Regions from separate parts of the Homo sapiens genome. Here region 2 is linked to region 1. Evidence: fine-mapped expression QTL. A gene starts in region 1. The other region holds a variant in brackets. All regions are shown on one strand. Distances are between the middles of the regions.

Region 1 (5,364 bases):
TGGGTGCAGTGGCTCATGCCTGTTAATTCCAGCACTTTGGGAGGCTGAGGTGGGTGGATGACTTAAATTCAAGAGTTCAAGACCAGCCGGACAACATGGGAAAACCCTGTCTCTACAAAAAGTACAAAAATTAGCCAGGTGTGGTGGCTGAAGCCTGTAGTCCCAGCTACTGTGGGGGCTGGTGGGAGGATCGCTAGAGCCTGGAAGGTGGAGGCTGCAGTGAGCCATGACGGCTGGGAGACAGAGACAGCAAGACCCTGTCCCCTCACCCCACCCTATCCTCCCAAAAAAGTGATACATGGTTCTACTGCCAGGCAGCGAGCAGTAGGAGCAGATCTGAACCTGGGTCCTGGGGGGTACGTACTCCGGGTAGCAGCTCCCACTGGAAGGTGCGTTCACCCACACCCCTTTCTCCTCTACTTGTCTGTCACTGTGGCTGGCACCACATCCTGCAAACCCAGGGGTATTCATCTACTGCTGGTAGAGCTAGCCCAGGCGTGCTCACCTAGGTGCCCAACCTGGGCCTTTCAAATACTGAGATGTAGTTTTAGTTACAACATAGCTAGTAAGTAACCATTATATAATCGGCATGTGTTTCCTTTCAACCCAATGAATCAGTCCCATGCAAAGCCTGGAAGCCTGAGACTTTCACTCAAGTCTGGTGTTCTGAAGGCAGTGTTTCTGTAGTTGTGAAATTATATTGAGCCACAATGCACTGTTTCCTGCACTGTGACATACTCATGTGACAGCCATGAGAAGGGGCCTGATTTGCCGTCAGTGGACAAGGTGTCAAGTGTTATCCCAAACTGTTTATGGCTGATGCTGGAGAAGGATATGGCTGTTATTAAAAGCATGAACAATCACTGACAGTCAACCCGAGTCAAGCCAGAAACAAAGGGAACCATCATTGGGATAAACAGCGCCTCCTGGTTTAGAGCAGGGCTTCTCCAGCTCAGCACTGTGAGCACCTGGGCAGGGGGATCTCCCTGTGCCTGCCGCCCTGAGCACGGGTGGGATATTGAGCAGCGTCCCTGGCCTCTACCCTCCAAATGCCAAGAGCACCTCTGCAAGGTCTTACCACTGGAAAAGTCTCCACACACTGCCAGTGGCTCCGTGTGGGCCCAAAACCATCCCTGGCTGAGAAGTATTGATCTGAAGTGTTTGGGTTTTCTGGGAGCTTTCTCAGGTACTGACTCACTTGACCTTCGACTGACTCGAGGCCCAGAGAAGCTATATGGGTTCGTTAAAGCCAGCGGCGGCCAGCTGGCGGGGGTGGCAGTATTGGGGTGGGTACAGGGGTCAGCCGACTCCTAGTCCTCTTTAAGCTGAGTTAGATCACCTGATGAATACTGGGCCTTCATTTCAAAACAAAGATTCAGAAAATGAAAACAAATCAAAATTTACAGAACCGTGTGTGCTGCTTTCTCTGCCTGCTCAAACCTCTGAATACCAGATGATAAAAGAATAACGATCTCACAGACTGACCAATTAAACTGACACGTCTTGATGGTACGAATTTAAGTTTCAAACAATGTCACTAAGGTCAATGTACACGAGCCCTCGTCAAAACGAAACGGCCGCGTCCAAACCAGTCCTGACCCGGGCGGCTGCAGCCCGGCCCCGGGAAGGCTCCTCCCGGCAGAGTGCGGAGACCTGGGAGGCGCCCGCCACCGGCCAGGCCAGCGAGCCGCTTTGTTCTCGAAGCCCACCTGGGCCTAGAGAATAAGTGTTGCCCCGGAGCGGGTGGGGGTCCCCATAAGGGGGGTTTGAGTAGTTCGCTCCCCAGCCACCCGGCTGCGTGAACAGCCCCCCAGCGAGCGCACGGCCTACCCCCCGCGCTCCGCGGCCCAGAGCGGCCCTCGCCCGGCCTCTGCTCGCCGGGGCGGCGGCGCGACCCACGCGCCCGGCCGGGGCCAGGGGTGCTCAAGATGGCGTCGTCACGGCCCCCGTGCCCGGGGCCCCACGCGAGGCCGGGCCCCAAGCGAGGCGCTGAGTGGGGAGAACGAGCGCTCGCGGCTCACGCCAAACGCCGCCTCTGCAGGCACTCGTGGAGACCGGCAGCGGGGCCCGCGCTCAGCTACAGCCCTGACCGCCCGCGCCGCTGCCCCGCGCACGCCCGCGGGCGCCCACAGCGCCGCGCCCGGCCCCGGCCCTCTCTGGGCTCCCCAGCCCCACTTCCGCCCGCGTCCCCGGCCCCGCGCAGGCCCCGCCGCCTCACCGCGGTCGAGCCCTTCTTGACGGCCTCCTGCGCGTACTCCACTTGGAAGAGGTGGCCGTCGGGCGAGAAGACGGTGATGGCGCGGTCGTAGCTCATGCCGGCGGGCGGCGGCCGGGCTCCTTCCGCCGCGACTCTCAAAAGCGCACACTCACGGCCCGCGCGCACCCGCGACTCCCGGCGCCACTACGCCCGCGCCCCACCCTCGGCGCCGTGTCCTGCGCTGCCGGCGACGGGCGGCGTCAGGCGGCGACGGGCAGCGTCAGGCGGCGTCGGGCGGACGTGATGGCGCGCGCCGGGGCGGGGTCAGGCCGAACCACCGGTGGCCGGGGGTGGGAGGCGGTGCTCCGGCGAGGGCCGGGCGCTGGGTGCGAGGGGGTCGCCGGGGGCCACCGTTCGGCACTGGGCCGCAGACCGTTCTGCAGGGCGGAGCGGCGGCGCCGCGGGCCCGGAGGCGCGGCGACGGCGACGGGGCGGACGAGCCCACGACGCGGCGCCCCCCGCGCTCCCGCCCCCTTCCCCCCCTCCGCGACTGCGGATAATGAGCGCCTCGGGCCGCCCAGCGCAGCCGGAGTATCCACCTCGATGACCACGGGCTGAGCCCCGCGCCGCCACCATGTCCGTGGCCTTCGCGTCTGCCCGGCCAAGAGGCAAAGGGGAGGTTACGCAGCAAACCATCCAGAAGGTGGGCCGGGCCGGAGCGGCGGCGCTGGGCGGCGGGTCTGCGGGCGGGCGCGCGCGGGGACGGGGCGCGGGCAGCTGGCGGGCGCGGGGCGCGAACAAAGCCGGGGCGCAGCCGGGCGGCCGCGAGCCCCGACGGCGGCCCCGTGCCCTTCCCCGCGTCCCACGCCTGCGCGCCGGCGGGCACCCGGCCGTGTGGGGGGCGGTCCCCGGAGAGCCTGCGCCAACTTTGTTGGGGCGCGCGGGTCCCTCGGGCCGGGGCACTGGGCGGTGGGGGCCGGGCGGACGCTGGAGGCTGCCGGCCCCCGAGCGCGCTGTCCCCCGAGTCCGCGGCGCGCGCTGGGAACTGTCCTGGGCTATGCCGGGCGCACGGGGACCCCTCGGGGCCGGAGCCGCGGCGAGGGCTTGTCGCGCTCCGCAGCCAGCTTCGGTGGCGACGGCGGGCGGTACTCGTTTTCTGCGCTCATTTTGGTTAGTGGTGAGGGGCCCGGGTCGGCCTCCGGGCGCACTTGCGACCGCGGGGACTGTGGCCGGGGCTGCCCCTCTTGCTCCTGGAGCGAGGCGCGAACGATGGAGGCACGGAAGGACGCGTCCCGATCCCCATTTGCGGGGCATCGTTACGCAGCCCGGCCCCGTAGGGAGCGCACCGCCCCCTCCGTATCCTCGCGGCTACGCCGGGTTTCAGCGTGACACCCTCGCCAGCCGCCTCGCCTAACAAACTTGACGGATTTGCTCCACAACCTTTCTTCTAGCTCCGTAAGTTCGGCCTTGTGGTTTTCAAGAGACAGCGTTTATGTGGGTTTGGGACACCGTTATCCAAAGCCCTAAGTTTTGAAATTGAGACTTTGTATTTTCTGCTGTTTTTTCTGTAGAAGACAGATTCGGAAGAAAATCAGCATTAGCCATACCCGTTTCAGTTGTCACAACATCTGTTGGAATGACATTGGTTTTTTTTCCTAAACTCTGACTCCGTCTTCACCCTGGTGGGATTGCAGGGATAAACAGTGGTATTCCTAGGTTCCCAGGAGCCGCTTGTCTCCCTAAGGGGGTTCACCTTGACCTTGACTGAGGCTGTTATTCCTTGATGACGTGCCAGTCTCCTGTGGAAGTTGTCCTAAATCTATCGCCTATTTTGAGACTACCTTTGCTGTTGCTAGTTTTAGAAATTTGATGGTCTTAACAAATGAGAACCTTGGCCAACTCTGAACAGGAGAGATTGAGAATAGCAGAAATACAGATTTACAAGTGTGGCATTTTAATTTACTTAGTAAACACTTATGTGGCGCTTACCGTATCCCAGACACTGTTCTAGGGGTTTTATAAATCTTGATTCATCCAATTCTTCATAGAAGCTACTGGCATCCCGTTTAATAGCTAAAGAGGCTGCGGCCTAGGGAGGCCGTGCCTTGCTGGTAAGTGGACACTGAGGCCTAGGGGGGCTAAATGCCTTGCTGGTAAGTGGCACAGCCAGGTGTCGATCCCATACGGTGGCTCCAGGGTCTGCTCTGTTGGTGCCCCTTGATCTGGGAACATTTGGCCAGGCGGAGGTCAAGCTCTAGGCTCAGAGGCAAATGTTGGAACCCAGAGCATCTCCTGGCACTCTGGTTTTTTGGAGCTTAACAGTCATTGTTCCTGAAGCTACCTTTGGCTGCAACGTTTATCCCATTATTTGCACTTCGCACACAGTTCCATTGAAGCTCCCCAAATTCTCCAGGTAAAAGTGTGTATTGAGGTGCTGCCCCGAACATCAGATCAGAAAGGAAGAAATGCACCTGTGGACCGTGGGTCCCTGGGCAGAAACTCAGCCTGCTGACCATTGGAAATAGGCCTTCAGTTTAGGCTGCTGACTTGGCTTGGTAGGGCCAGCAGTCTGCGTATTGGGCTTGGTGTTTTGACGGTGAATATATGTACCCAGGGATCTTTTACTGGGAGGTGTGAGAAGGCTGAGAAAGGTGTGAGAGGTGTATGTTCTATGCCTCAGACGTGTGCTGTGTCCACAGTGTGTGCTGGTAGTGTCATGCCGAGAGCTTTAAGAGAAGCCAGGGACCCCTCTGAAGCCTGCGTGGTAGTGAAGGAGAAGGAAGTCTACAACTTGTCCTTACAGCATTCTGCGTGGTAGCGAAGGAGAAAGAGGTCTACAACTTGTCCTTACAGCATTCTGCGTGGTAGTGAAGGAGAAGGAGGTCTACAACTTGTCCTTACAGCATTCTGCTTGGTAGTGAAGGAGAAAGAGGTCTACACCTTGTCCTTACAGCATTCTGTGTGGGTGGAGATCTTCCAGGCCAACTTCTACTCAACCTTCAAAGCCTCACTCACGTGTTCCGCGTCTCATGCTCCGTCGGCAGTCATGTGGCCCTTGTAGCACTTGCTTGAGCTCCTGAGTTTGGCATGTGACTGATTATTCTTTGCTGATCCCCAGCCTCTCATAGTGTCTGAGCACAGTTAGTGCTGAGCACGTGCTGGATCAT
Region 2 (5,364 bases), 44 kb before region 1:
GGCTGAGAGGGGGAGGACAGGAGCCAGGGAGGGCTTCCCTGAGGTGTCATGGGCACAGACACTGTCAGGCGTGGGGAGGGATGCACTCTGCAGGGGGATCTGCACTGCCCAGGCCAGGAGCCGAGAAGTGGATCCAGGAAGGGCTGGGCCCTGCGGTTACCTGTCACCCAGAATGGCACTGGGCGCCTCTTCTGTCCCCGCCGGCTGTGTGGCCCGAGGCGGGCCCTGGGGCTTGGGTTTCTCATCCATGCAGTAGGGACAGTGTCCCACCTCTGCGTCCCTCATGGGGCATGGCAAGGACCGGGGGAATGGAGGGCCTGCCTGGTCGGATCAGAGAGCAGGGTGGGGGGTGGCGGCGGTCTCAAAGAGGAAGGAAGGCCCCTAGGCTGGGGAAGTCGTGTTGATGCCACCACGGGCACAGCCAAGGACAAAATGCCCTGGGGGCCTCACGGGACCAGACCCTTGGGTCCTCCCACCAGGGGTGGGAGACCATCCTGTCCATGACCACGTCCCACGACATGACTTCAGTTCCCGCCTGTCCTCACACTGGGGACTCCCCCTGCTCACTGCACCCACTGTCCAGTGATGGGTAATTTGAGCCCCAGCAGAACAGTTGTCAAGAGGCTGCTCCGGGAAGGCCACGCAGGCACCACACTCAGGGCAAACGTAGTGGAGTAGGGGGTGGGAGGCGATTGCGGACATGGGCATGAGGGTTCCCAGGAAGAGGGTGGGCATGAGGCAGGCATCTGCATGCTTTTGGGGGGGCATGGCTCTGAAGGGGCAGGTGCAGGTGGGAGAGGGTGTGGGGAGAGAGAATTCTGTGCCCCCATGCAGGGGGATGGGTGTTGCCAGAGGCAGGGTGGGGGCACCGCGGACAGTCGGGCGGAGGGCACATTCCAGGAAGCGTTTTACACACAGGCAGACAGGCCCCACTGCAGGGAAATGGAAGATGGGAAGGGCAGCCCATGGCTTTTCTGGTGTCAGAATGGATTTCTGAAACACAGAGTGAACACAGTCATCCGAAAAGCCCAGGGTTCAATGTGCTGGAGCCCAGATCCGTGGGAGCCCAGGGTGGGGACCTGGGCCTGGGGCTGGGGCTCTTTGGACACTGGCCAGGAGGAAGCAGGAGAGGAGCCAGGTAGGGCCCCGACGGCCTCACGGGCTGCTCAGGACAGACCCTGCAGCCAGGACGAGCGTAGGGCTCCAGCAAAGCTGGACCTGCAGCGTGCCGTTGGGGAGGGGCCTGCCTGGGGTCCACTGTTCCCTCAGTCACAGGCTCCCCAGCGTCCCTTCCCGCACCAGAGTGAACGGCAGGAAAAGATGCTGCAGCGGCGCCCGGCCTGCACCTCCTCCCAGGTGAATCTTGTGGAAAAGGAGATGTAGGCCTAGACAAATCTTTTGTTTTAGAACATTTCCTTCTTGAAAAAAAGAAAAAGAAAAAAGAAACCAAAAAAACCCTTGTCTTCCAGGGAGATCAAAAGGTGATGGTGAAGGAGTCCCGCAAGCTGGGAGTTTAAAAATGGAACAGGCCGGGCGCGGTGGCTCACGCCTATAATCCCAGCACTTTGGGAGGCCGAGGCGGGTGAATCACGAGGTCAGGAGTTCAAGACCAGCCTGGTCAACATGGTGAAACCCCATCTCTACTAAAAATAGAAAAAATTAGCTGGGCACGGTGGTGGGCGCCTGTAATCCCAGTGACTCAGGAGGCTGAGGCAGGAGAACCGCTTGAACCTGGGAGGCGGAGGTTGCAGTGAGCCGAGATTGTACCACTGCACTCCAGCCCAGGTGACAGTGGAGGCTCCATCTCAAAAAAAAAAAAAGAAGAAAAAAGAAAAAAATAGCACAGAACTGGGTCAGGTGGGTTTGTCCTGCCACAGACAGGGTGCTGCTTAGAACCAACCAGCTTTCCCCAGAACTCACCTCCTGCCACTTCATGGTGGAGGGGGTGGCTGCTGGGTTGGACCCAACTCCACCATCTTCCAGCTGGTGAGGATTTCCACGCCATTCCAGGTCACCCCCCGACCTGTTGGGAGCCGGCGTCTTGGACAGGGGAAAGCTGAACAGGGCAGTGAAGAACAGTCTAGAAGCATGTTCTTCACTTCAAGACCCAGGACCCCATGGACATCCTGCCTACAGATCGCCCCACTAGCCCTGCTTCAGTCACTGGGCATCTGGCAGCACTCGATAGGTGCCATGTGGTACTGCCTGCTCTGTGGGTGCAGCTGCCATGCC[G/A]AGGCCGTCCCCTCTGTCCTCTCCAGGCTCTCCTGTAACCTCCCAGCTCTGCTCTCCCATGCCCTCCCTCAACCCAGCCCTTCCGTGGGGGCTCCTCCTGGCTCTCCCCGGCCTGTCCCTCCACACCCCCTTTCAGACCCTCACAGCTGCCTCCCCACACCAGCCTTCAGGGGACTCTGCAGCCCACCTCTCTGCCCACTCCTTCCTCCTAGATTCTCACTGAAGCTTCCCCCGCTCTCCCTAGACCCGCAGCTCATACCCCCGGCTACTTATTAGAATGCCTGGCAAGCTTGGATAAAACCCCATACTCAGCCACACCCAGGCCCATTAAACCACACACCTAGAGTTGGCCTGGAAGCCTCGAGGTACATCCAGGGTGCAGCAGGTAGGAGGCCTCAGTCCCAGACCAAGGAAGGAGCCCTTACCATAGAGTGCCCAGCCCCACCCCAGCCCCGATGCTCACCAGCGTGGGGATTGTATGTTGACCCACACTCAATGAGTGTCTGTGGGATCAGTACATCAGTGATGGGGGGATCAGTCCATCAACAGATCAATGAATGAACCAATGACTGGATGATCTGAGTGGCCACTGCTATTGGCTGAGACGGCTTCTCTCAGGTTTGTCCTCACCACCTGCTTGCTGTCTGAGCAGCCCACCCTCCTCCGTGCACCCCTGGACCCACCTCTGCTTCCCATGGGTACACCCTTGCCTCTGATACAGACGGAAATCCTGATGGCGACAGAGCTGACTCTCCTAAGGCATCCTTTGCATCTGCATCAAAACGATCTGAGGCCACAGATGAGGCCACGAAGAGAAGAACGTGGCCCTGCCTGCTCTGGATTCCCAGCCCCACGGCCCTGCTGTCCTGCTGCTGCTTCCCTGCACTTCCTCTGCTCACCCGCCCGGCAGAGGGTGGTCCCCTGGGCCCACGCAGGCCTGAGCAGCGCACTCCTCCAGGCTTTGGGTGTAAGTCGTTCTTGCGGTCAGTTTATCCTGTGTCTGCCTGTTCCCATCCCAAACCTCCCCAGGGACTCTAGAAAGCGTGTCCTGGGCCACCTTTCCACGTGGGGAGCAAGAAAGCCATCAGCCCCATCCTCCCAGGGGCTCTCATGGGCAGCCTGGCCCTGACTCCCCAGGCGGCTGCTCTTCACACTGCTGTCCATGGGCAACGAGCTCCCACACCTCTGTTGGGGTTTGTCCTGAGCGGAACCTGGGTCCCCCGACTGCCCTCCCCGCTCACTCCCTGCACATTCTCTAGGAGTTCACTGAGAAAGGTGCCTGGAGGCCTCCTCAGTCTTAGGGTCCCCCGGGGGACGAGGATGCAGAGTAGCTTCCCACGGGGCTGTGAAGGTTTTGCCCGCTGCCGACATTGTCCACCTGCAGCCACCTGAGAGGCAGTGCCAGTCAGATCACCAGCTCTTTCGTGGGACTGGGACCTGCTCTGCCAAGAGTTGGCTTCATGTCCTGTGTTCAGAAATTTCATGATGCCATGCCGGCCTTCCTTCACTCATTCAACCTGGAGCCTCACGTCCACATTTTAGGATGTTTCCTCATAAATCACTTGCTTGGCGATGCTCTCCATTCTGTTTTCTCTTTCTGGAGCTCTTATTAATGTTTTCTTCCCTATTTTTCATTTCATTTTCTCTACTTTATGAAAAAATTATCTTTTTTTTTTTTGAGACGGAGTCTCTCTCTGTCACCCAGGCTGGAGTACAGTGGCACAATCTCGGCTCATGGCACAATCTCCACCTCCTGGGTTCAAGTGATTCTCCTGACTCAGCCTCCTGAAGAGCTGGGATTACAGGTGCCCACCACCATGCCCAGCTAATATTTGTGTTTTTAGTAGAGACAGCGTTTCACCATGTTGGCCAGGCTGGTCTCGGACTCCTGACCTCAGATGGTCCACCTGCCTTGGTCTCCCAAAGTGCTGAGATTACACATGTGAGCCACCACGCCCCGCCTGAGAAATTTATCTTTTATGGAAGTTTTCATTTGTGCTTTTTTTTTTTCATTTCCAAGAGCTCTTTCTTAATTTCTCACTGTTCCTTTTTTATTACATCCTGTTCTTAGGTCATGGATGTGCTGTTTTCTCTTCTCTCTCCAAGGGTATCAGCAATAAGGTTTTTTCTTTTTTATATTTTTTGTTCCTCAGGTTGCTACTCTTTCCCCCAAGCTCCCTTCTTTGGTGCATGGGGATGTGGGATCTGTCTTTCGTGTGGGGTCTTTTTCTTCTTCAAAGTCCAGTGACCCTTGGGGTCCACGTGTCTTCATGAGAGGCTCAAAAGTGCTGAGGTGGAGCAGTGTGGGTGTAGGGGGATGAGGGGCTGCTCCAGGGTGGACCTCAGAGGGGGAAGCAGCAAGGTCTGAATATGTGGTCAGGGTTCTTAAGAGGCCAGCGCAATTCCACAGAGCCCCCACCTCCCACCCGGGAGACACATCAGGCTGTTGGCACTCGGGGAGGGAGCAGAGTAAAGGGCTCAGGCCACCTTTCAGGATGTGGCTGTGACCTGATCTCCTGGCCCTCCTCAGTGCCTTGCTCTCTCACAGGCTGTGCCTACCCCTGGCCCCAGCCCAGAACCTCCCAGCCCTGACTCCTGAGAGCAGCACCTGGACCCCTGTCTTCTGCCTGCATCTGTAGGAAAAGCAGTCTCCTAGGGGTGGGTCTGAGCTCCCAGTCCACCCCATGCTCCACCTTCAGAGCTGCCTGGCCTTCTGGATGGAGTCCCTCTGGGGTCCTGGGGATTCCCCACCCTGTGTGCCTGGGCTCTGCCTCTCCCTGGTCTGCCCAGTTGGTACTGCCCAGCTGTCTGTCTTCCAGCTGAGCCAGAGAGGAGATGCCCACAGATAAGCAGGGTCAGCCGTGTCCTCTGTGGTCCTCCCGTGAGTCTAGGGAGGGGATGCCCCAGAGGAGCAAGGTCAGCAGTGTCCCCTCTGTGGTCCAAGATCCAGGGAGAAGCGTGTGCTCTGCACGCTGTGCTGAACCAGAAGTCACCCCCTTACATTTGACTCTGTCTTCAATGTATTTTTAGAAGGAAACTGTAACCACTGCTGCTTCGAATGTGCTGTCACCATCATAGCCACCTCCCCTACAAAGACACAAGCAGGAGCCAGAGGCTGGGAAGCCTGGCAAC

Alleles and levels. Positions count from the first base shown, and alleles are read on the strand shown. Sizes are in standard deviations (SD) of each study's normalised expression.
With allele G in place of A in region 2, the expression in aorta of the gene that starts at base 2,780 in region 1 is higher (small effect, 0.16 SD a copy in GTEx).

What was found. PIP is the estimated chance that this variant, and not a neighbour inherited with it, causes the effect.
Region 2: its variant is the best candidate, but not a certain one, in a credible set for the expression of SS18L1 in aorta (GTEx, PIP 0.68).

Annotation. Positions count from the first base shown.
Region 1 is chr20:62,140,990-62,146,353 of GRCh38, forward strand. It overlaps SS18L1 (SS18L1 subunit of BAF chromatin remodeling complex), which reads left to right and starts at 2,780. Exons shown (of 11, transcript NM_198935.3): 1 at 2,780-2,900. The coding sequence starts at 2,832. It overlaps PSMA7 (proteasome 20S subunit alpha 7), which reads right to left and starts at 2,405. Exons shown (of 7, transcript NM_002792.4): 1 at 2,219-2,405. The coding sequence starts at 2,314. RefSeq lists silencers at 1,607-2,246, 2,287-2,996, 3,117-3,176, 3,207-3,256.
Region 2 is chr20:62,096,988-62,102,351 of GRCh38, forward strand. It overlaps LOC105372706 (a long non-coding RNA gene), which reads right to left. Exons shown (of 3, transcript XR_936963.2): 3 at 4,156-5,364. Among named protein-coding and RNA genes, the nearest start is that of LSM14B, 23 kb to the right of the region's middle. The variant G/A (reference allele first, on the strand shown) is at 2,233.